3 linked regions of the Homo sapiens genome follow. The protein of the gene in region 2 interacts with the protein of the main gene of each other region in a biochemical or structural test. Each region holds a gene or a part of one and is shown on either strand. Other genes may lie near its edges. The genes, in order: MRAS, RALGDS and RRAS.

What was found.
Region 1: the proteins of RALGDS (region 2) and MRAS form a complex in vitro, tested with the Homo sapiens proteins (one study listed by BioGRID).
Region 3: the proteins of RALGDS (region 2) and RRAS form a complex in vitro, tested with the Homo sapiens proteins (one study listed by BioGRID).

What each region holds. Positions count from the first base shown.
Region 1 is NC_000003.12:138,372,480-138,379,617, reverse strand, and holds part of MRAS (ras-related protein M-Ras isoform 1 precursor), read right to left. Parts: intron 6,753-7,138; 5' UTR 6,735-6,752; coding exon 6,542-6,734; intron 1-6,541. UniProt on the Homo sapiens protein: Signal transducer in the Ras-MAPK signaling pathway that regulates cell proliferation and survival. Core component of the SHOC2-MRAS-PP1c (SMP) holophosphatase complex that regulates the MAPK pathway activation.
Region 2 is NC_000009.12:133,111,187-133,118,324, forward strand, and holds part of RALGDS (ral guanine nucleotide dissociation stimulator), read right to left. Parts: intron 967-7,138; coding exon 856-966; intron 1-855. UniProt on the Homo sapiens protein: Functions as a guanine nucleotide exchange factor (GEF) activating either RalA or RalB GTPases and plays an important role in intracellular transport. Interacts and acts as an effector molecule for R-Ras, H-Ras, K-Ras, and Rap.
Region 3 is NC_000019.10:49,637,054-49,644,170, reverse strand, and holds the start of RRAS (ras-related protein R-Ras), read left to right. Parts: upstream 1-4,027; 5' UTR 4,028-4,072; coding exon 4,073-4,225; intron 4,226-7,040; coding exon 7,041-7,117. Other genes in the region: SCAF1 (splicing factor, arginine/serine-rich 19), read right to left, coding at 3,646-3,648. UniProt on the Homo sapiens protein: GTP-binding protein with GTPase activity, likely involved in the regulation of MAPK signaling pathway and thereby controlling multiple cellular processes. Regulates the organization of the actin cytoskeleton.

The sequences.
Region 1 (7,138 bases), on a different chromosome or scaffold from region 2:
GGGAGGCCGAGGTGGGCAGATCACCTGAGGTCAGGAGTTCGAGACCAACCTAGCCAAGATGGTGAAACCCCATCTCTACTAAAAATACAAAAATTAGCCGAGCGTGTTGGCAGGTGCCTGTAATTTCAGCTACTTGGGAGGCTTAGGCAGGAGAATTGCTTGAACCCGGGAGGGGGAGGTTGCAGTGATCGTGCCACTGAACTCTAGTCTGCCCAACAAGTGTGAGACTCCGTCTCAAAAAAAAAAAAAAAAAAAAAAAAGACATTCTGTCATTTGCAGCAACATGGATGGAACTGGAGGTCATTATGTTAAGTGAAACAAGCCAGGCACAGAAAGACAAATATTGCATGCTCTCACTGATATGTGGGAGCTAAAACAGTGGATTTCATGGAGGTAGAGAGTGGAATGATTGACATCAAAGGCTGGGAAGGGTGTGTGGGTGGGGGGATGAAGAGAAGTTGGTTAATGGGTACAGAAATACAAAGAGAAGGAATAAGTTCTAGTATTTGATAGCACAGTAGGGAAATTATAGTTAACAATAATTCATTGCAAATTTCAAAATAGCTAGAAGAGAAGAATTGTAATGTTCCCAATACAAAGAAAGAATGTTTGAGGTGATGGATATGCTAATTACCTGGATTTGATCATTACCATGCCCTCAAAATATGTATGAATATGATATCAATAAAAGAAAAGGGAGCAAGCAGAATAGTGGTTGCCAGGGACTGAGGAGAGGGGAGAATGGGGAGTCAGTGTTTAATAGGTACAGAGTTTCAGTTGAGGAAGGTGAAAAGGTTCTGGAGATGAATGGCAGGGATGGTTGTAGAACAAAGTGAATGCACTATGCACTTAGAGATGGTTAAGATGGTAACTTTTATGTTATGTACACTTTATCACAATAAAACAAACAAACACAAAACTCTATGGCTCTGCCGAAGGTTTGGGGCTTCCTGATTCATGACAAGAGAGAATTGGGGTGAGGGCAGTCACACAGCTGAAAGCCAAGGTGAGGTGGTGTTCCAAAGTCAGAGACAGGAGGAGAGGGCTGAGAGCATGGAGATGGGACAGCCGAAGCAAACCCCACAGTGGAGAAGCAGGGACCAGACGGGGAGGAAGAGAGGCTCCGAGGGTTGGGCCCTTGACAATATAAAGTGAGATGAGGATCCCGAACCCTTGCAGGAAAGAACTCAGAGCAGGCTTGCTCCAAAGCCTGGGGGTCCCACAGCCACAGGAGAGCCTGGCTGCTGGCCCCTGAGGCCAGCCAGCTCTTGTCTCTTAGGTTCTGGGAGGACACAGGCAATGTGACTTCCTGGAAGAAAACAAGAAACAGGTTTGCAAGAAAGCAGGCAGCCTGTGAGAATAATCAGTGTGGAAGTCACAGAGAAGGCTTCCTTAAGCAGCTTGCAAATCTCTGACGTGAGACTGAGATCACAACCGGAGCACCTGGTTCTCTGAAGGACCCTGGGTGAGGAGTAAGAAGGGCAGAAGAGGTATGATAGTTCAGCCACACCCACTTCTTCCTGGGACTTCAGCTCCCCTTCCCAGAGGCACAAGGATCCACTGTGCTGTGGGGGAGGATTTTCCTACACAACCAGACTGACAGTGGGTAGGAGTCAACAGGTAGCTCAAACTGTTGCTGGTTGTGTGAAACTTTTGCTGTATTTTCTTCAACTATAAAACAGAAATAACAACAGCAACTACCACGATAGCATTTGTAAGGATTCAAAGACAGCAAATGCAATGTGCTTAGCACGGGCCTTCCACACAGTTTCTGCCCATTCAATACCCCGTCATCAAAATTATCATTCTCTTCCTTCTCCTCATCATCGTGCTGCCACGTTTTTATTCTTTCTGAGTTTGGAAGAAGAGAAACTGCAGAGTTGAGATCCCCTGGAGTTCAGTGGGGTACAGGGCAACTGAGGGCACCTCCAGGCTTAGCACCTCCCCGAAGATGGCATGGCCTCAGGGGAGCAGGACCCCTGGGATCCAGATGCCCAGGGAAGTCCTGGCCATCTGAGGGGTGCAGACCACTCCAGAAAAGTTCAGCCCCAGAAAGGTTCAGAGTTACTCACTGCAACCTCCGCCTCCTGGGTTCAGGCAATTCTCCTGCCTCAGGCTCCCGAGTAGCTGAGATGACAGGCGCCACCAGGCCTGGCTAATTTTTTTTGTATTTTTAGTAGAAGCGGGGTTTCACTATGTTGGTCAGGCTGGTCTCAAACTCCTGACCTCGTGATCCACCCACCTCGGCCTCACAAAGTGGTGGGATTACAGGCGTGAGCCACCGCACCCGGCCAAGTCTTCCTTTTCTTAATAGCAGATCTAATGGAGTGGAGAAGCATCTAATCTGGGAATCTGGTGTCTATTCCCGAGGAAGGCCTGGGTGGGCAATGCCCTAAATCGGGCCTGACTCTGGTGGCAGAATTAGAAGCTTAACAAACTCATTCTTCTAAAGTAATGCCATGGAGAGCCCAGGCATTCAGAACACAGGCTTTGCAAATGCACACTTCTAATATAATGCTGCGGCCATGTTTCCCCTCTCCCTGCTGCTCCTGCTATAAATGTTGAGGAAAACATTCAATCTTGAGGAAAACATTTTTCCTCAGAAACCAATTTAACATCCAAAGGTACTCAGGAAAAAGTCAGAGAAGTTTATATGGCTGTAGAGAGAAATACTGATTGAGTTCCAACGATGTACCAGGCATGGTGTTACTTTCTTACATGCATTATGCAATGTGTTTCAGAATGTTCTCTATGGAACATAGTTCAGAATCACGTGCAAAAAATGACCCCTGTGGGAAGCTCTAAGGACAATGTATCCTATCACTACACCTCTAATATGTGTTTGCATGTTAAAAGTTCTTGTAAGTCCTGCAGTGAAGAAACTTGTTTACATTTATTTAACTCAGTATATCCCAAAGTGTGCCATATATTCCAATAGGTGATGCATGAAATGATTTTAGAAAGTGCACAGATGTAAGTTTTAATTTTAATAGTTATATATACTTATTATTGTAATGTGAGTTAGAAAAAAATAATATAGCTAGCACATCAAACCTTTCACTACACATATATTGTTCAAGGTTTATTCTTTCATTTGGTCATTCCACAAATGTTTACTGGGGAGCTACTATGAGCCAAGCAGTATTCTAGATGCTAGGAATAATGCAGTCAGTAAATAAAGTCCCTGCTCTCAGACATTTATATTTTAGTCAGCAGAGACAAAAACACAAACAAAGATAAAATATGTCCAACCATAAAAGGCAGAATAAAGAAGAACAGAGTTGGGCATAGAAATGACTGGGGTGGGGTGGATACTAGTGTCAATGGTTTGGTCAGGGAAGACCTCTTAGATAAAGTGACATTTGAGCTGAGACCTAAATGAAATCAGTGTTTCTGCAGGAACAATGTTCTAGGCAGAGAGAAGACAAAATGCAAAGTCCCAAGATGGGAAGGTGCTTGGTACCTGTTCAAATTGTTCAAAGTCCCAGGGCTGCAGACAAACCCTTGGAGGACGGTGCTTTTTAAAATTGAGATACAATCTACATGCCATAATATTAATACTTTAAAAGTATATAATTCAGTGCTTTTAAAACATATTTACAAAGTTTTTTTGTTTTGTTTTGTTTTTTTGAGAGGGAGTCTCACTCTGTTGCCCAGGCTGGAGTGAGGTGGCGCAGTCTCGGCTCACTGCAATCTTTGCCTCCTGAGCTCAAGTGATTCTCCCACCTCAGCCACCCGAGGCTAATTTTTATATTTTTAGTTGAGATGGGGTTTCACCACGTTGCCCAGGCAAGTCTCAAACTCCTGAGCTCAAGCAATCTGCCCACCTCAGCCTCCCAAAGTGTTGGGATTTACAGGCCTTGTAAGCCACAGCGCCCAGCCACAAAGTTGTATTTTTTTGAAGTCATGATTTGGTTCTGCTTCTGGCCAAGATGGAGTGACAGGGACCAGATTTACGTTCTCAGCTGAAACAACCAACAGACAGACAAAATATGTGGGAGGACTGCTTCAGCCCAGAAGGTCTAGGCTGTGGTGAGCCTTGATCATGCCACTGCACTCCAGCCTGGGTAACAGAGCGAGACCCTGTCTCAAAACAAAAACAAAAACATCTTCCCACAAAGAAAACTCCAGGGCCAGATGGCCTTGTTTGTGAATTCTACTAAACAGTTAGGGAAGAAATACCAATTTAACTCAAACTCTTCCAGAAAATTGAATAAAACTCGTTCTATGAGGCCAACATTACTCTGATACCAAAATTAGACACAGACATTACAAGAAAACTATAGACCAATATTTCACAAGAACACAGACATAAGAATTGTAAACAAAAGTTTAGCAAATCAAAGCCAACAATATTAAAGGATAATACATCATGACCAAGTGGGGTTTATTCCAGGGATGCAATTTTGGTTTAATATTAAAAAAATCAAGGACCAGGGATGGTGGCTCACACCTGTAATCCCAGCACTTTGGGAGGCTGAAATGGAAGGATTGCTTGAAGCCAAGAGTTCAAGACCAGCCTGGGCGACAATGGGAGATTCCCCCCAATCTTCACAAAAAAATAAAATATTAGCCGGGCACAGTGGTGTGTGCCTACAGTCCTAGCTACTGGGGAAGCTGAGGCAAGAAGATCTCTTGAGCCCAGTATTTTGTGGTTGCAGTGAGCTAAGATCATGCCACTGTGCTCCAGCCTGGGTGACAGTGCAAGACTCTGTCACAAAAACAAAACAAAACAATCAATGTAATTTACCACATTAACAAACTAAAAAAGGAAAACCATTTGGTTATCTCAGTAGACACAGAAAAAGCACTGGACAAAATCCAACATCCATGCCTGATAAAAACTCTCAGCAAACTAGAAATAGAAAGGAACTTCCATGACCTGATAAAGGCCATCCATAAAAGGCCTGCAACTAACATCATACTTAATGCTAAAGACCAAACACTTACCCCTTAAGATCAAGAACAAGACAAGGATGTCTGTTCTTGTTACTTCTTTTCAACAGGATGCCAGAGATTTTAATCAATGAGATAAGGCAAGAAAAAGAAATAAGAGCCATCCAGATTGGAAAAGAAGAAGTAAAACTGTCTTTACTTGCAGTCACTATGGTCTATTCAGAAAAATCCAGCAGAATCTACAAAAAAGATACTAGAACTAGTAACTGAGTTTAGCAAAGTTGTAGGTTACAAGATTAATATACAGAAACCTATTGTTTTTATATATACTAGCAACAAACAACTGAAAATTGAAATAAAAAACCAAAAATAATAATTTACGGTAGCATCAATACAGATACAGGTATAAAACTGACAAAACATGTAAAAGACCTATGCACTGAAAACTACAAATAAGCCAGGCGTGGTGGTTCATGCCTGTAATCCCAGCAGTTTGAGAGGCTGAGGCTGAGGCAGGCGGATCACGAGGTCCGGAGATCGAGACCATCCTGGCCAACATGGTGAAACCCCGTCTCTACTAAAAATACAAAAAAAATTTAGCTAGGTGTGGTGGTGCGTGCCTGTAATCCCAGCTACTTGGGAGGCTGAGGCAAGAGATTTGCTTGAACCCGAGAGGCGGAGGTTGCGGTGAGCTGAGACTGCACCACTGCACTCCACCAACCTGGTGACAGAGCGAGACTCCGTCCCCCCAAAAACAAACAAACAAACAAAAAAACCTACAAATAAAACTGACAAGAGAAAGAAGACCCAAATAAACAAATAAATAAATAAATAAATAAATAAATGGAAAGAGATACTGTGTTCATGGGTTGGAAGCCTCAACATTGTTAAAATATCAACTCTCCTCAAACAGATCTACAGTTTCAACACAATCCCAATCAAAATCTAGAATTTTAGAATTTAACTGATGCTAAAACTCACATAGAAATACCTTAGGACCTAGACCAGTCAAAACAACTTTGAAAAATAACGAAGTTGAAGATTTAATACTCCCTGATTTCAAGCATCTCCTCGAGGGTGTGTTAAAACACAGGGTGTTGGGCCCACCCTCAGAATTTCCAAATCAGTATGGGCCTGAGGATGTGCATTTCTAATTAGTTTCCTGATGCTGCGGCTACTGCTGGCCTGGCTGCCACACTTAGAACTAGTAATCCAGACTAATTCACACTCAGCTAGAAACACAATGTCAGATGCAAGAGATTCCCCTCAAAGGACAAGTACCAAGTAAACTATGCTCATTAAGAAACAACTTGCTTTTCCCTTTTTTATTAGCTAAAGACATCCATAACTGTTAATCAGAGATTCTGATCAGCAAGAAAAAACACACATGACATCACTGAGTTGGCATGATTCTAGCCTCCCCTCTTTGCTGAATGCACATTTTGGTTTCCACGAAATCTTGCAAGCCCTCTACGCAGGCCTTCCCTGTTGAGAATTCACCCTGAAAACGACACACGGCTTTATATCAACCATCCCATAACAGCAACATTAAGGAAACCATCTTGCCCCACTGAAACCTGTCAAATTTCCCTGATCCTCCCCATCTACTATCCCACCCAATGCAGGGCTGCCACCCAGGTCTCACCGTCCAAGATGGCCCATTGATTGTCAATCTCCGTATGTTTCAGGTAGGAGTCTTCAATGGTGGGGTCATAGTCAGGCACAAAGATCTTCTGGAAAAACTGGATGGTGAGGGCACTTTTGCCCACACCCCCATCCCCCACCACCACCAGCTTGTATGTGGGGAGGTTGTCACTGGGGACGGCGCTGGTTGCCATGTTTCTCGTAGGTCAGACCTGCGGCAGCAAGACATGTGGAATGAGACAGAGGGCTTTTTTAACTTAGGGGAAAATATTCATATGTTTTCCTCCTTTATAAAGTAATACTCTCAATTATAAAGAGGTTTGAAAATGAAGAAATGCAAAAGAAAATAAAAGCATTACCCCTGGTCTCACTAGCCAGAGACAGTCCACTGTTAAAGTGATTTATTCAACCATCATTTATTCAACACCAATTATGTGCCAGGCCTGGTGTTGAGGACACAGTACCACTGGTCTTGTTTAGCAAGTATAGCCAAAAGCCATGTCAAATAAGCTTTTTGGCCACTAAACTCTACTTGTACAGGTTAACACGAGGGCAGTGGTCTGAGCAGGGCTGGCATGGAGGTTCATCTTTCACATCC
Region 2 (7,138 bases):
TGAGAGCTCTAACAAAATATCCCCATTCTAGAGATGAGGAAACAGAGGCTTATCCAGGGGCTGGGAGGGACTGGCCCGTTAGGACGCACAGCATCTTCCCCGTGGCACTGTTTTGTTTTGTTTTGAGACAGTCACCCAGGCTAGAGTGCAGTGGTGTGATCTCGGCTCACTGCAACCTCAGCCTCCTGGGCTGAAGCAATTCTCATGTCTCAGCCTCCCAAGTAGTTGGGATTACAGGCACACACCACCATGCTTGGCTAATTTTTGTATTTTTAGTAGAGATGGGGTTTCACCATGTGGGCCAGGCTGGTCTCAAACTCCTGACCTTAGGCAATCCTCCTGCCTTGGCCTCCCAAAATGCTGGGATTACAGGCATGAGCCACTGCGCCTGGCTCCTGCAGCACTGTTGAAGTGTCCTCAGAGGACTCACAGTGGCCCCACAGTCATGAGGAGCTGAACTGGGGCAGTGGCTCCAGCCTCCCTTCTGGAATATTATGCAGCTGAGTCAGGCCCCGGCTCTCAACCTGGAGGAACCCCAGGGATGTGTTCTGGGAGATGGCAACTTGCAGAGACCTAACAGCCTGAAGCCCTTTTGTCCTTGGGTGAAGACAGCCCCACTACTCCAGATGGTGTGCACATCTGGGAGAAGGCATGGAGGATGGTGAGGCTGATGGCTGCACACCCGGGGAAGGGAGGTCAAACATGAAAACCCGATTAAGCCTGGGCTGGACAGTGGGGGTCGGGAAGGGAGTGAAGGCCGTTTCCTTTGGGATCAGAACTGGGGGCCCTCAAGTGAAAAAGTCCTGGGAGGGATCCCCAGCTGCGTCTCCCAGTGGAGACCCCGAGCGCACTCACCCCGAGCCAGCGCTGCCCCTTGTTGCCTCCGTGGTGCAGCTGCACCTTGCGCAGGGAGATGGAGTAGATGACTCCGTTGATCAGCTCCTCACCGATCTCCTGCGTGGAGCTCTGTGAAGACAACGCCCGGCAGCCGGGCGCGGGGACGTCAAGGGCCTGCCTGGCCACCGTGCAGGGGATGCACCTGTGTAACCTGTTTCCCAGATAGGGCACAGACTGGCGGCTGCACAGACCTACAGCCTGGGGTGGAATGAGATCACAGCTCGAGAGCCACTGTCCCGGCACTCCACTTCCCCAACCCGGCCAGCCACGACCTGGGACGTGATTATGATGAGTCCACCAGGCTTCCAATCCCCTAGTAACTGGCTTCTGCTCCTGCCCAGGACAGACCCACCCTCAAGCCATCCCCTTCCACACAGGGGACTGTTATTCAGCCATTGCACAGATGGGTAAATGGAGGCTGAGAGAGGAACAACTGGTCCAAGGTCATGCTGCCTCGGGTAAGTGGTGAGGCAGGGACCCCAGGGCTCTGACACGGCTGACTGCATCCAGGCGGCTATGCCCCAAGAGAAGGTCCCCCTACCTCCCCAGGGCCAGAGGCCCATGGGCATCCTCACACTCACCCCTCCTCTACCCAGCCTGGGGGGCCCTGGCTGACCTAGCAGGAACGCACAGCTCCTCTGGGCCCAGCCCTGGTGCGTTGGCAGCCCAGGTCTGGGCAGGTGTGGGGCACCCCAGACAGCCACATCCCAGCCACTTCCTTCCCCTCTGCTCATTCATGCCCTCGTGCCTGCTTGGGCAATGGGAGTTCCCAGTTCCCTGACCATCATCACGTGAGGGGACGGGTGTGAGAGGTGACGGTGCTGGTATCCAGGCAGATGCTGGGGTTCCACAGAGCCCTAAACCACAGGCCTAGACTGGAACAGGAAGGGGGCATCTGGCCCCAGGCAGTAAGGAAAGGCCGTTGTCTTAGGAGACAGACTTCCCCCACCTGGCAGGCTGGCCTAGGTCACTTAGCCACAATTACCCCCGGCCTCACAGCCCCCTATGCCACCTGCTCTGTCCAGGGACGGAATGAGCTTGCAGCGGGTAGAGGAGCCGGGGGGTTAAGGACATCAACCTCAGAGGTTAGGAAGGAGCTAAGAGGTACTGGCCTGGCCCAGGGTCATTAACCGCCCAGTCAGTGCCCCAGCCCAGGTAGGCGTGGAGCTCAGAGAAGGCCTGGCAGACAGTGCTGACTCAGGCCCTTCCCTCAACCCCAGCAGGAGCCAGGTAGACTGTCCAGCATGCTGTGGACGGGACCCTGGCCTCCTGCCTCCTGCGCACCCTCAGAGGCCCAGGAGCCATCCTGGAAGTCCACTTCCTCCGACCTGAGGTCGCCTCCCACGCTGGGCTTTGTACAACAGGAAAGCTGCGGGCATTGTGCCGGGCTCCTGACCGCCACCGCCTCTGGACAGAGAGCCAGCCCCATTTCTTGGAAGTTAGCAGGGAACCCACAGGCACACTCACACCCACACCCCACAAACAGCCCCGCCAGGGGAGGTCTGGCCCTTCCACTGACAGGAAAAGAGACATACGCTCACCCCCCTTTTCCTGACTCACACATCTCTCCCCTGCCTAGAAAGTTGTTCCTTTGAAAAGAAAAGCATTAGAGGTTACAGCGACCAGGGCCCCCAACCACCCGGGCCTCCTCAGGGGTCCCAGACTGCCTCCTGTGAAGGCCGTTGGCTCAGCTGGGAGTCTCTCTCTCTCCCAGGGATTTTAGCCACATCTGGACCAGCTGGGAGGCAGACAGTATCCTGAGTGTCCAAGTCACCGGCAGTGGCTCTGAGATCTCGTGCAGGACAAGCCCGCCACAGGGGACTAAACATTAACCCTGGGGGAGCCCAGCACAGCACCCAGGTCCTGGCTGAGCACCATCAGTGCCTGCTGGACAGAGGTGTCCCCAGGCAGGCCAATCCCCAGGAGGGGCTGAAGCCAGGTGGCCTCGGCTGTCCCTGAGCAGGTCTAGAGAGCGGCTCCTCCGTGAGCTGGCAGGCCAGCAGCTGGCCCAGCCCTGCTTGGTGTCATGTGATCCCTGCACCCTTCCCCCACCCCCGGGGGGCCCTCTTCTGCCAGCCGGGTGGTGGGGAAGGATGCAGGCCCAACACTGAGAGCCATGCATGCTTGGGGTAAGGGAGTTGCCACCCTGTCACACAGTCGGGGAGACGCTCTAGCCCGCGTGGAGCTGGCCTGTCTTCTCTGGTCGCTTCCCGTCACAGCAGCAGCAGGCATGGAACCAGACCATAGAGCTACGTGGAGTACAGGGGCTGTTTAAACCATCTGCTCAGATGGTGGAGGTGCAGGCTCCAGAGAGAGCTGCCCTGGGGTCTGGGAACAAAGTGGCAGAGTAAGGCCTCTATCCCTTGCCCCCTCACAGGACAGAGAAAGAAAGCAGCCAACAGCCCTGGCAGCTGCCCCAGAACCCTCTGCAGCAAGAAAGGCAGGGTTCCAGCACCCACAGGCCACCCTAGGTCACTCTGTTAGCAGACAGCCCATCTGGGCAGCGCCTGGGCCCCAGGGCACTCTGGCCGGGCTGGGAGCTCAGAGCGGGAGGAGCAGGAACGGCCTAGTGAACAGCTGATGCAGAGAAAACGCTTTCCCCTGAGGGCAGGTGCCCAGGCAGCCGCTATGAGCTGACTGCTAGGAGGAGAAAAGAACACCACGTGCTTGGCTGTGTCCTCAAGGGACACTCCTGTCCCACCCCTAGCAGGCATGCTGATGTCCCTGGGCTCTGGGACCCAGTCGGCAGCTGTGCCTGTAAACACACTGTCTGGCCTTCTAACATTTGGGTCAGTGCAGTGAGGGTGGCATGGGGTCCCCGGTGAGCAGGGGCCCCCACACCCCAATGTCTCCAGGGACACAGCCCAGAGCCCTGAAGATGAGGATGGGAAACAGGGCCTGGTGGTGTCTGGTGAGTGTGTCACCTGATCAGCCTTCTCAGAGTGACAGGCCAGCAGGATGCCGTGTCCCTGGCTGACAGAAGGAGGAAGCCACAGGCCAAACCCAGACTCCCTCTGGGTAGAATAGTGAGGGTCTTGAGGAACCCTACGGGGCCTGCCCCAGCCCTGCCATCTCCCCGCTCAGGCCAACGGCACCTCCTCCCAGCATCAGCCTTCTGGTGCAGCTCCGGACTCAGACGCCTTTCCTTGGAAACCGTAGCTAGTGGCCCCCTGCCCCATGGATGGCTCCAGGAACTCACCGGCCCCTCCCAAGGAGACCTGGCTGAGGGCTGAAGCGGAGTGAGGAGAGGGCTCTAGCCTGCACCTCGGCCTGCTCCGCCCCTGGTCCTCCCCGGGCCTGTGTGTGGAAAGGCTCACGGCAGAGCCTCCGTGTGCGTGAGATTGTCCTGGGGGACCTCCCAAGCCCCTCTGAGCTGCTGCTCAGGTCCCAGTCACCAGAGGTCACCCCGGGGTGCTTGCCACCCCCCTGCCAGCACCTCACAGTTCTGGCCCACCAGACAGCAGCTCCCTGTCTCTCGCTGGCTCTGCCCAGCCCCTGGCCCTCGGCCTTGGTGTGTCATCTGGGGAGGGCAGCACTACCTGTCACAGGCAACAGTGGGGGTCAAGAGAGAATGCACACAGCTCGGTGACCGGCACTGGGACCTGATGGCGTGGTACCGGACAACACCTGACATCATATCCCCCTGGGGCCGGCGACGGATGCTGGGCTGTAAAAACCTGAGGGAAACTTGTCTGAGGCCTGCCTAAGGCTCAGGGACCTAGCCGAGGGACACTGTAAAGAGAGGCTGAGTCACCCTGAAACCCAGTGGGTGGGAGCAGCTTTCTGACTTCAGCTTTCCGCTCCAATACAGAAGCCAAACGTAAAACGCATCACAGAAGGCTGCTCGCTCTCTACAGAGCCCAGGCTCCTGCGACAGTGCGGGGCCCACGCTGCTGTGCCCTTCTCCGTCCTACAGAGGTGGGGACCCATGCCCGAGGACAGGAGCCGGTGGGGCGTGTGCTGGCTGAGCCAGAGGTGAGAGCCCAGGACTTCTCAAGTCATGAGCTCGGACCATGAGCCCCATCAAGGGAGGTGGAACGCAAGGGCCTCGTGTCCGTGTCCGTGACCCTCCTGCCCTCGGGCCTGCCCTCCAGCTCCAGGTGGGTGGACCCAACCCTGATCCCCAGCGCACAGACAAAGCATCAAGATGACAGGAGGCCAGCCCGGGGTGTGGGTGGGCCACACTCCTGATCCTGGGCATGGCAGCCCACAGAGGCGGCCTCAGACCGGGACGACACGCGGTGCCTGCCCACCAGGATGCTCCCTGGCCTCAGAAAGTGGAGGCTGGGAACCAACCAGTGCTGAGCCCCGCAAAGGCCGGCCCATCTCTCCAGAAACCCTCCCTGCCGGCCTGTGCCCTGCTACTCACTGATGGGAAAATCGTGCCTCAAGCAGGAGGAGGGAGAACCAGACCTCCAGGTCAGCCGCAAGCCTTGGGCATCCAGGGTCCCTGTCCACGCCCAGCCCCTGACAGTCAGGTGAACACAGGGCCAGGCCCGGGAGGGGCGTGGCTGGTGGCAGCTGAGGAGGAAGGTGGGCTGGTCCCAAGGGGGTGCAGGGCAGCCCCAACTTTAACCAGCTACAGTGCCCAGCACATGCGGGCACTTCCTGGGTGCAAGGCCCTTTGGACACCCATCACGTTTAATCCTCCTAACGCCCTGCCTGATGGACAAGGAAACAGCCTGAGAGGAACTCGCCCAGGTCAGGAGCCAGGACGTGGCAGCCAGAACAGGGATTTGAACCCTGGCCTGTTGGGACCCACCCAGGCCTGGCGCTGCCTCTGCCATGGTCTCAGGCTTGGAGCAGAGTCCAGCCCCTTGTGGCACAGATGTGGAGGAGGGGCCAGAGACAGGAAGGATTTCCTCAGGTCACACAGCAAATTCGCAGGGGAGGGTGGCAGGGCCAGCTTTCTAGCACCTGCATCTCCGAGAGGTTTGTGGACGTGCCCTGGGCAAAAGGCCTACAAGACACCAGGCCAGGGAAGTGCCATGCTGAAGGTGCCAGGTGACGCACCCGAGGAGCCCAGGGCACTTGGAAGGGTCAGGCCGCTCCCCTGGCACCTAATCAGAAAACCTCATTGTGGCAGCTGCTACCTGTCCACTGTGCCAAGTGCTGTGCAGGCTGCTCCTCAGGTCTCTTGTCTAACTCGAGGGTCCTCACCAGAACCCTAACAGGAGAGCTGGCATCATGTCCATTTTACAGATGAGGAAACTGAGGCTCAGGAGCACGTCTACATCTGCTAGGGGGCTGAGCTGGCATCCCAGCATAGCTCTCTTCTCTCCAGAGCCCAGGCTCCCTGCCCCTCGGTTGAGATGGACAAAAGTCTCCAGGAATGACTACAGGGGAGGCTGCCAAAGCATGCAAGCTTCCCCATGGAGGAAAACGCCAAAACCCTCCAACGCAGGTGTCCTGCCCCGCCCGCCAAGCCACTGTTGGGCTGCCATCCCACTGCCTCCCCCGCCCGTGGGCAGCCAAGGTGTGCGGAACTGGGAGAATTGGGTCTGCTCAAAGCTCAGCTTGTCCTGCATGAGGCTGCATGCATCAGTGTCTGCCCCTTAACAATCAAATGGGGAACACTGCTCTGCTGTTGCTGTATATCTGGGAACACAGTGATTCTGGGCCTGCAAGGCTGGAAGTCCAACCCTGGGACTGGGTGGCCACAGCATGGTGGCACCACGCCATGGGAGCCATCTGGGCGGCCAACCAGCAGCTCTTGGGAACCAGTCCTTGACTGCCTGGGTGCAGCTTCCTGAAACCGCTCCACTGGCTCGTTCAGAGCCTGCCTGCAGAGGGCCAGTGATAAATCTCCCCACTCTTTTCTCATTGGCAACGCAGACAGGTCCTGGAAATGCCCAATTTCCAGGTTAAGAATCAGACCCCAGCTCTGGCAACGAGCAGCTTGATATCTCCCAGGGCCATTCCTGAGCCTCCCGGGAAACAGGCCAGCATGCCTGAGCATCCCCCGCCTGGAGAAGGAACAAAGACCCAGGACCAGCCAGCCTGGTCCCCCTCTTCTGGGGGACCCTCCCGAGTAGAGCAAGAGGGGAACCTGAGGGTCCTGGGGGCTGCCCCTTCAGAGTCACCCAGGAAGCTCTCCTGGAAGACCACAGTCTGTACACATGCATGCAGGGACACACACCCACACAGGGACAGGCCCTTTGCCTTGGGGTCTTCAGTGTCAAAGTGCTCATGAGCCCTGGGGATTAAACCGAAGACCTGCACACAGTGTGATCAAGAGATC
Region 3 (7,117 bases), on a different chromosome or scaffold from region 2:
CTCAAAATTCCTAGAAAGCTTCAAAATCCCTAACCCACAACTCAGTATGCTTAATTGTAAATGCACGAAATAGGAGCATCTATCTCAGAGAATGGCTGTGAATACTCAAAGCCTGACTTCTGCCACACATTTAGAGCACCTCAAGTGCTCAATACGGATGAAGAGGAATGACACTATTAGCCCTTAACGCCCAGGTTTCCCCTACATCTGTCTCCTCGCTTCCCCCACAGCATGCCTGCAAAGACAAGGCCCTGGTCCTGTTCTAGATCCCATATAGATTTTCAAACCATGCCAAGCCTCCATATTCAGCCTCCCAGCTCCACCTAATTCCTAACTTCCTAAGACACACCCAACCCTGATAGTCTATTACATCCCAGCCTCTTTCACCAATACTCAATAAGCTCAGCCCCAGTTCCTGGCCCTGGAACTGCTCTCCAGCACCTCCCGGGGAAGCACATGCTACCTACAACAGTGACTGTCACATATCAGAAGCTTAATCAACATCTGCTGACTACAGGCTGAGGGATCCCCAAACCCTCTGCAGTATACAAAGATGCTTGCTTGCTCATTTAGAAAGCACCAGGCTTCGCAGACACACCCTCAGCTACTGAGATCTTCTGAACAGAAGAATGCTCTGCAGATACTGCTAGGTCCTATCTGGATCAGTGGTTTCCCCAACAACAGGGTCATATACCAGTTTAGTGCTTCACAAATAGCTTGTTTTAAAAAGTAAATAGAACAAAATAGTTCTTCACAGCACAGCACAAGTAGTAAGTGGAAATGTCAATTCGTGGAAGGTGAGTTAATGTTAATACATTATGTTATATAATGTTAAATACATTATGACTGTCTGTACCAGGTCTCAATGAAAAAATGTATCTTAATGCAGATCACGGTCAACATGGCCCAGGTTTCCCCTTGAAAAGCACTGTAATAGTGGGTCTAGATGACCCTCCAGACTCTTCCAGACTAATGTAGATTAATTCTAACTCTCTCAATAACCCCCAGGGTAATGCAGAATCTTAAAACATTTTTCATTTGAATTACTGTCTGAAGGGCAAGTATATCTAAGCTGGGCAAAATTTCCTCATTCTCTTTCCGTATTATTATTCGCCACAAGCTGCTCTGACCCCAAAGGCATTCGAATTTGCTCCAGGCATCAAAACTGCATTCCTGCAGTCACATTAAAGCCATCTAGATGGTTCCAGGTCCTTCTAACTGCCCCCAGCCTCCTGTCACCCATTATTAGACACTACCCATACCTTGGAGACCCCAGACCCTCAGTACATCTCAATATTTGGCGCCCTTCCCTGGTGGGCATAACCCAACCCCCTAGGGGGCCCTAAATGACTTCTTAGCCCTTGAACACTCCTTCTAGGCCTGATAAATGGCCCCAGACTTATGCAGACCAGTTGCATCCTCAGGCCAGCCCATGCAGACACTTTCCAGCCCTAAAAGACATACCCCAGGCCTCTAGATGGCTCTGAAGATACTCTTCAGGTCTTGCAGACCCTCCTTCACCCCTGGGACATATCTCAAGATCTCAAGATGGCCCCAGAACCCTCTAACCAGACCCTAGCCTCCGGTCAGCCCAAAAAGACAATCTACAGTGTCTACAGACACGATCCAGGCCAGCTGTGTGATGGAGGGCAGGCCTTAGGCTCGGTCTAGGCCCAGAGACGCCCCAAGTCCTCTCGGAGACGCCCCATAGACGCCCCCAGGAACCCACGGATGCGTCCCGGGGCCCTGAGAAGGCCCCCCTCTCGGCGCCAGGTTTCGCCGCAGCTGCCGGGCCCGAGACCGCCCCGAGAAGCCCTCTAGGACCCGTGGCTTGTGGGGAGGACCCCGGGACAACTAGCGACCCAACTCCGCCCCGCCCACCCCAATAGGCCCGAGCCCCGCGGCCCGGACTGCCGCCGCCATCTTACCCCGCCGCTCGGGCTGCGGCTCCGGCCCCGGCGCGGGGCGGGGCGGGCTGGGGCGGGGTTCGTGAGCAAAGGAGGAGAGAGGCGGAGCTAAAGCGCCGCCGAGCTTGCCGGGATTTCAAGTACCGAGCACGGCGACGTGAAGGCCGGCGGGAAGGCAACCGCACTCGGTTTCCCAGAAGCCAATGGGACACATGGGGCGGGGTCCGCGCGATGCACGCCGGGAGGCGTAGTCCGCGCACCGCCTCTGTCGCGCGGGGACAGCTAATGGGGTGAGAGGTGAAGTGGGCGGGGCCGCGGTAGCCCGCGATGACGCCCCACAGTGCCCTGCGCGCGCGCGGAAAGGGTGGCGGAACAGGAGGTGACGTAAGAGGCGCCAGGCAGAACAGACGCAAGGGAATTGTAGTCCGGCGGAGTGAGCACGACTTGCTGGATGTTGTGCTGCCCACATTCTGGGGCTCTCAGAATCCAGATCCTCTAGGCCCCCCTAAATTTAGAACCAGACGGGATGCAGTGGCGCACACCGTAGTCCCACTCGGGAGACTGAGGCGGAAGGATGGCTTGAGCCTAGAAGTTAGAAGCCAGCCTAGGCAATATAGGGAGACCCCGCCTCTAAAAAAATAAAAATAGGCCAGGCGCGGTGGCTCACGTCTGTAATCCCAGCACTTTGGGAGGCCGAAGCAGGCGGATCATCTGATATCAGGAGTTCAAGACCAGCCTGACCAACATGGTGAAACCCAGTCTCTACTAAAAATACAAAAATTAGCCTGGCGTGGTGGCTAACGCCTGTAATCCCAGCTACTCGGGAGGCTGAGGTAGGAGAATCGCTTGAACCCGGGAAGCGGAGGTTGCAGTGGGCCAAGATCGCGCCATTGCACTCCAGCATGGGCTACAAGACGGAAACTCCGTCTCAAAAATAAACAAATAAAAATAAACTTAGAACCTAGAAGCCCGACCCCATAGCCGCCTCGTTCAGTACAGAGAAGTCTGAATTCCGAATCCTCTCACTCAGAGCAGTGTCCAGACTCCTATTTCCCTCCTCCCTCCGACTCAGGAGTCTGATTCTTCCTTCCTCGGATCCAAGAGTCGGTCTCCCAGACTAGTCCTGGTCTCAAGCTCTCACATACGAATTCGGGTCCCCCCAAGCCAGTGCCCTCGCTCGGATCCAGAATCCTGGGTCCCCAGCCTCTCCAATTCCTGGACCTAAGAGTCCAGGCCCCCGGCTCCCTCCTTTACCGAACCTAGTACGAAGGAACCTGTCTACCTTCCTCCCTGACACCCTCCTCCCCAGGACCCAGGAGTCCACATCTCCAGCCCCATTTTCTCCTAAGGACCCAGGAGTCTGGGCCCTCTGCTTCCTTCTCCTTCAAGACCCAGAAATCCTGGCCCCAGGCTCTTCATGACCCAGGCATCCCTACTTGGGCGAGCTGGCTCATGGATTAGGAATGCAGTGATCTCACGGCCCCTCCCTGCCCCGTTACCCTGCTGTCCCCCTCTAGGGCCCCACTCTCCTCCCAGTCTGTCTTCCGCTTGGCTGGGACAGCGGGAACCGGAAGCCTGGGTCCCTTAGCGGGCGGAGACTCTAGCTTCTAACCCAGACGCCGGGGTCGAAAGCTTGGCTAGGATCCCAGGAGGGAGGTGGAGCTACTCCTCAAAACCTGCTGCTTCCTCGGAGCGCCCTATATACGGCCGCGCGCGCGAGTCGACGAGCTCCGCCTACCATACTAAGGCCTCGGAGACGATGCCCCAAGCAGCAGTGTCACAGGGGTCCTTATTTGCATAGCCCCTCCCCTGAGGAACTTTCCGCCCCGTCTGCTGAAAGAATAAATTCTTATTAGCATAGCCACGCCCACAGACCGCCCTCCCGCTGAGAGCGCGTGGCGCCGCTCAGGGCAAAGCACAGGTCTCTCATTAGCATAGCCCCGCCTCATTCGGAATTCCCCTTCGCAGCGAACGCCGTTCCCTTTCCCTTATTAACATAGCTCCTCCCTTTCTTTGGCCCGTCCCCCTCCTTAAGTGTCCGGAGACGCGAGCCCTCCTTGCCAGAGCTCATGATTATGCAGTAGCCTCATTAGCGTAGCCCGCCCCCCCGGGTCCCGCCCGGCTCCCCCGCAGGCGGTAGCGAAGGCAGCAGCAGCGGTGGCGACATGAGCAGCGGGGCGGCGTCCGGGACAGGGCGGGGGCGGCCCCGGGGCGGGGGACCTGGGCCCGGGGACCCCCCGCCCAGCGAGACACACAAGCTGGTGGTCGTGGGCGGCGGCGGCGTGGGCAAGAGCGCGCTGACCATCCAGTTCATCCAGGTAGTGGGCCCTCACCCGGGAGGGTGTCCCCCGGGACCCAGAACTGAGCCCTTGGGGGGATCCCCGAGACCCCTTTTCCCCCTTGACCCATCACTGAGACCCTCCTATAAGGCCCTCTAATCTTAAAAGATCCCCACAGATTGTAACCTAAACTCTTGGAGAGCCTCCATCCCCTGCACGGGGGACCCTTCCTTCTGCACTCGCATCCCGAGACCCACTATTCCCTCTCCCAGTGCCTAAGACCCCGCTTACCTGCTGACCTGGCTTTGAGCACCTCCTGGGAGCATGCTAAATACAAAATACTCACCCCATTCGGACCCTAAGCACTCCCAGGACCCCCACCACGCCCTTGGTGCCACCTTCCACCACCCTGAGCCCTATCTCCCCCAAATCCCAGTCCCCAACTTCCCCTCTAAGCCATTGAGAGCCTTCCTGGGAGAATGCCAGTGCCCAGCACCTTTGAGATTCCACCACGTTCGATTCTTTTTTTTCTTTTTTTTTTTTTTTGAGACAGAGTCTCACTCACTCTGTCACCCAGGCTGGAGTGCGGTGGAGTGCAGTGGTGCGATGTTGGCTCACTGCAACCTCTGCCTCCTGGATTCAAGCAATTCTCCTGCCTCAGCCTCCCAAGTAGCTGAGACTACAGGCGAGTGCCACCATGCCTGGCTAATTTTTGTATTTTTTAGTAGAGACGGGGTTTCACCATATTGGACTGGTCTCGAACTCCTGACCTCGTGATCGGCCTGCCTTGGACTCCCAAAGTGCTGGGATTACAGGCATGAGCCACCGTGCCCGGCCCCACGTTTGATTCTTAGCCCCTTCCATGACTGCCCCCAGAATCTAGAAATTCTACCCAGACCCTGGCCCTGAGACTCTTCTGGGACTACCCAGTCCTAAGAGAGTCCTGCTCTCCGACCCGAGATTTAAAAAGACATCCTGCCCCTTGGCCATTCCAGAAATCTCCAAGACCCCAAGTCCTGACAATCCCCCATTCCCGGAGGCCCAAACCTCCACTCTCCCACCCCACCCCCAAGGAAAACCAGCCCCTCCTCCATCCCATGCTTTCTCCGCTGCAACTCCCTGAGCCCCTCTCAGAAACCCTGAATAGCTCTCAAATCATCTCCATGGAAGAAGCCCCCAGATTCTTGGCACCCCCAGAAAGATCTATTCCTTGGGAGTTTCTCTGACCCCATAAATGAACTCAATGTTTCTAAGACTGTATATACTATAACCTCCCAAAACCCCTGAGCCACCTCCGGGCTGGCTCCCAGTTCTCAGCCCTGAGCTTCTCACGCTGTGCTCTGAGGTCACGCCCCTAACTACCCCCAGAGCCACAATCCCTCCCAGGGCTTGATCCTTACAGCCTCCCTCCAGGACAAGCCCCTCACCAAGCACCCCTCTAACCGACAGATGCAGCCTTCAGACCCCTAGCCTCCACATCACCCCCTTTCCTGAAATTCCACCCCAGCCCAGGAAACCTCCTCCCCATTCCTGAGGGAGGTCCTCCCAGCTTCAAAGAAATCCTAGAAAAGTGTCTTGGCCTGACATGCTACCGCAGAGGCCCCGGGGCCCCAGGACACCCCCCTCACCCCCACCAAGAGACCCCTTCAAGGGCCTGGGAGGAAGCCCTGCTTGTGTAGAGAAAGGCCCCAGCCCTGGGCCCCTTGCACCCAGAGGCAGTCCCAGAGCTGGCCAAAGGCTTGGCTGGCAGCGGGCAGGACCCAGGCAGGAAGGGAGGGGCTGGGGCCCGAGGGTGGGGCAGCCTCTCCGCAGCCGGATTGGAACCGGGACCTTCCCCTGGGAGGAGACGCTGGAGGCCGCCTGAGCAGGAGAAGGAGACGGGGGAGGAGGAGACGGGGGAGGAGGAAGAGAGGGAGGAAGCAGAAGAGGAGGGAGAGATATAAACAGGCAGTCTGGACAACAACGCCTCCGATAACTGATACATTCAATATTTAATGGGGTTTTGCTCCGAATCTTGCCAGTGCTGGATGGAGTGTAGTGCTGTTCTTAGCCTCCTTTTTCAAATGAGGAAACTGAGGCTCAGAGAGGGGAAGTGATTTGTTCAGTGTCACACAGCTAGGATGTAATCACGATGTGGGACATGTACCTTATACCAGAAAGAGAGGACCAGGAGTGACTCAGAGAGAAGAAGACTGGTAGGAGGGGTGGGGGGCAGGGAAAGGGGGGCAGGGGAGCAGCTACCCAAAGAGAAGGGGACAGAGACCCAGAGAGAGAGAGTAATAGAGACTCAGAGAGACAGAGGGGACAGAGACCCAGAGAAAAGGGGGCAGAGACCCAGCAACAAGGACAGACATCTGGAGAGAGAGAGAAGGACAGGGCAGGGCGCAGTGGCTCACATCTGTAATCCCAGCACTTTGGGAGACCCAGGCGGGCGGATCACCTGAGGTCAGGAGTTCGAGACCAGCCTGACCAACACAGCCTGACCAACACATCTCTACTAAAAATACAAAATTAGCCAGGTGTGGTGGCGCATGCCTGTAATCCCAGCTACTTGGGAGGCTGAGGCAGGAGAATCTCTTGAACCCAGGAGGCGGAGGTTGCAGTGAGCCGAGATCTCGCCATTGCACTCCAGCCTGTGCAACAAGAGCGAAACTCCGTCTCAAAAAAAAAAAAAAAAAAAAAAGACTCAGAGAGACAGACGGGACAGAGACCCAGAGAAAAGGGGGCAGAGACCCAGCAACAGGGACAGACATTTAGAGAGAGAGGGACAGAGACTGAGAGAGGCATCCCAAGGGCAGGGCTTCGTCCTGTCTGCCGGGGCACTGCAGTAACTATCCTCTCCCCACCCCGCCAGTCCTACTTCGTGTCTGACTACGACCCCACTATTGAGGACTCCTACACGAAGATCTGCAGTGTGGATGGCATCCCAGC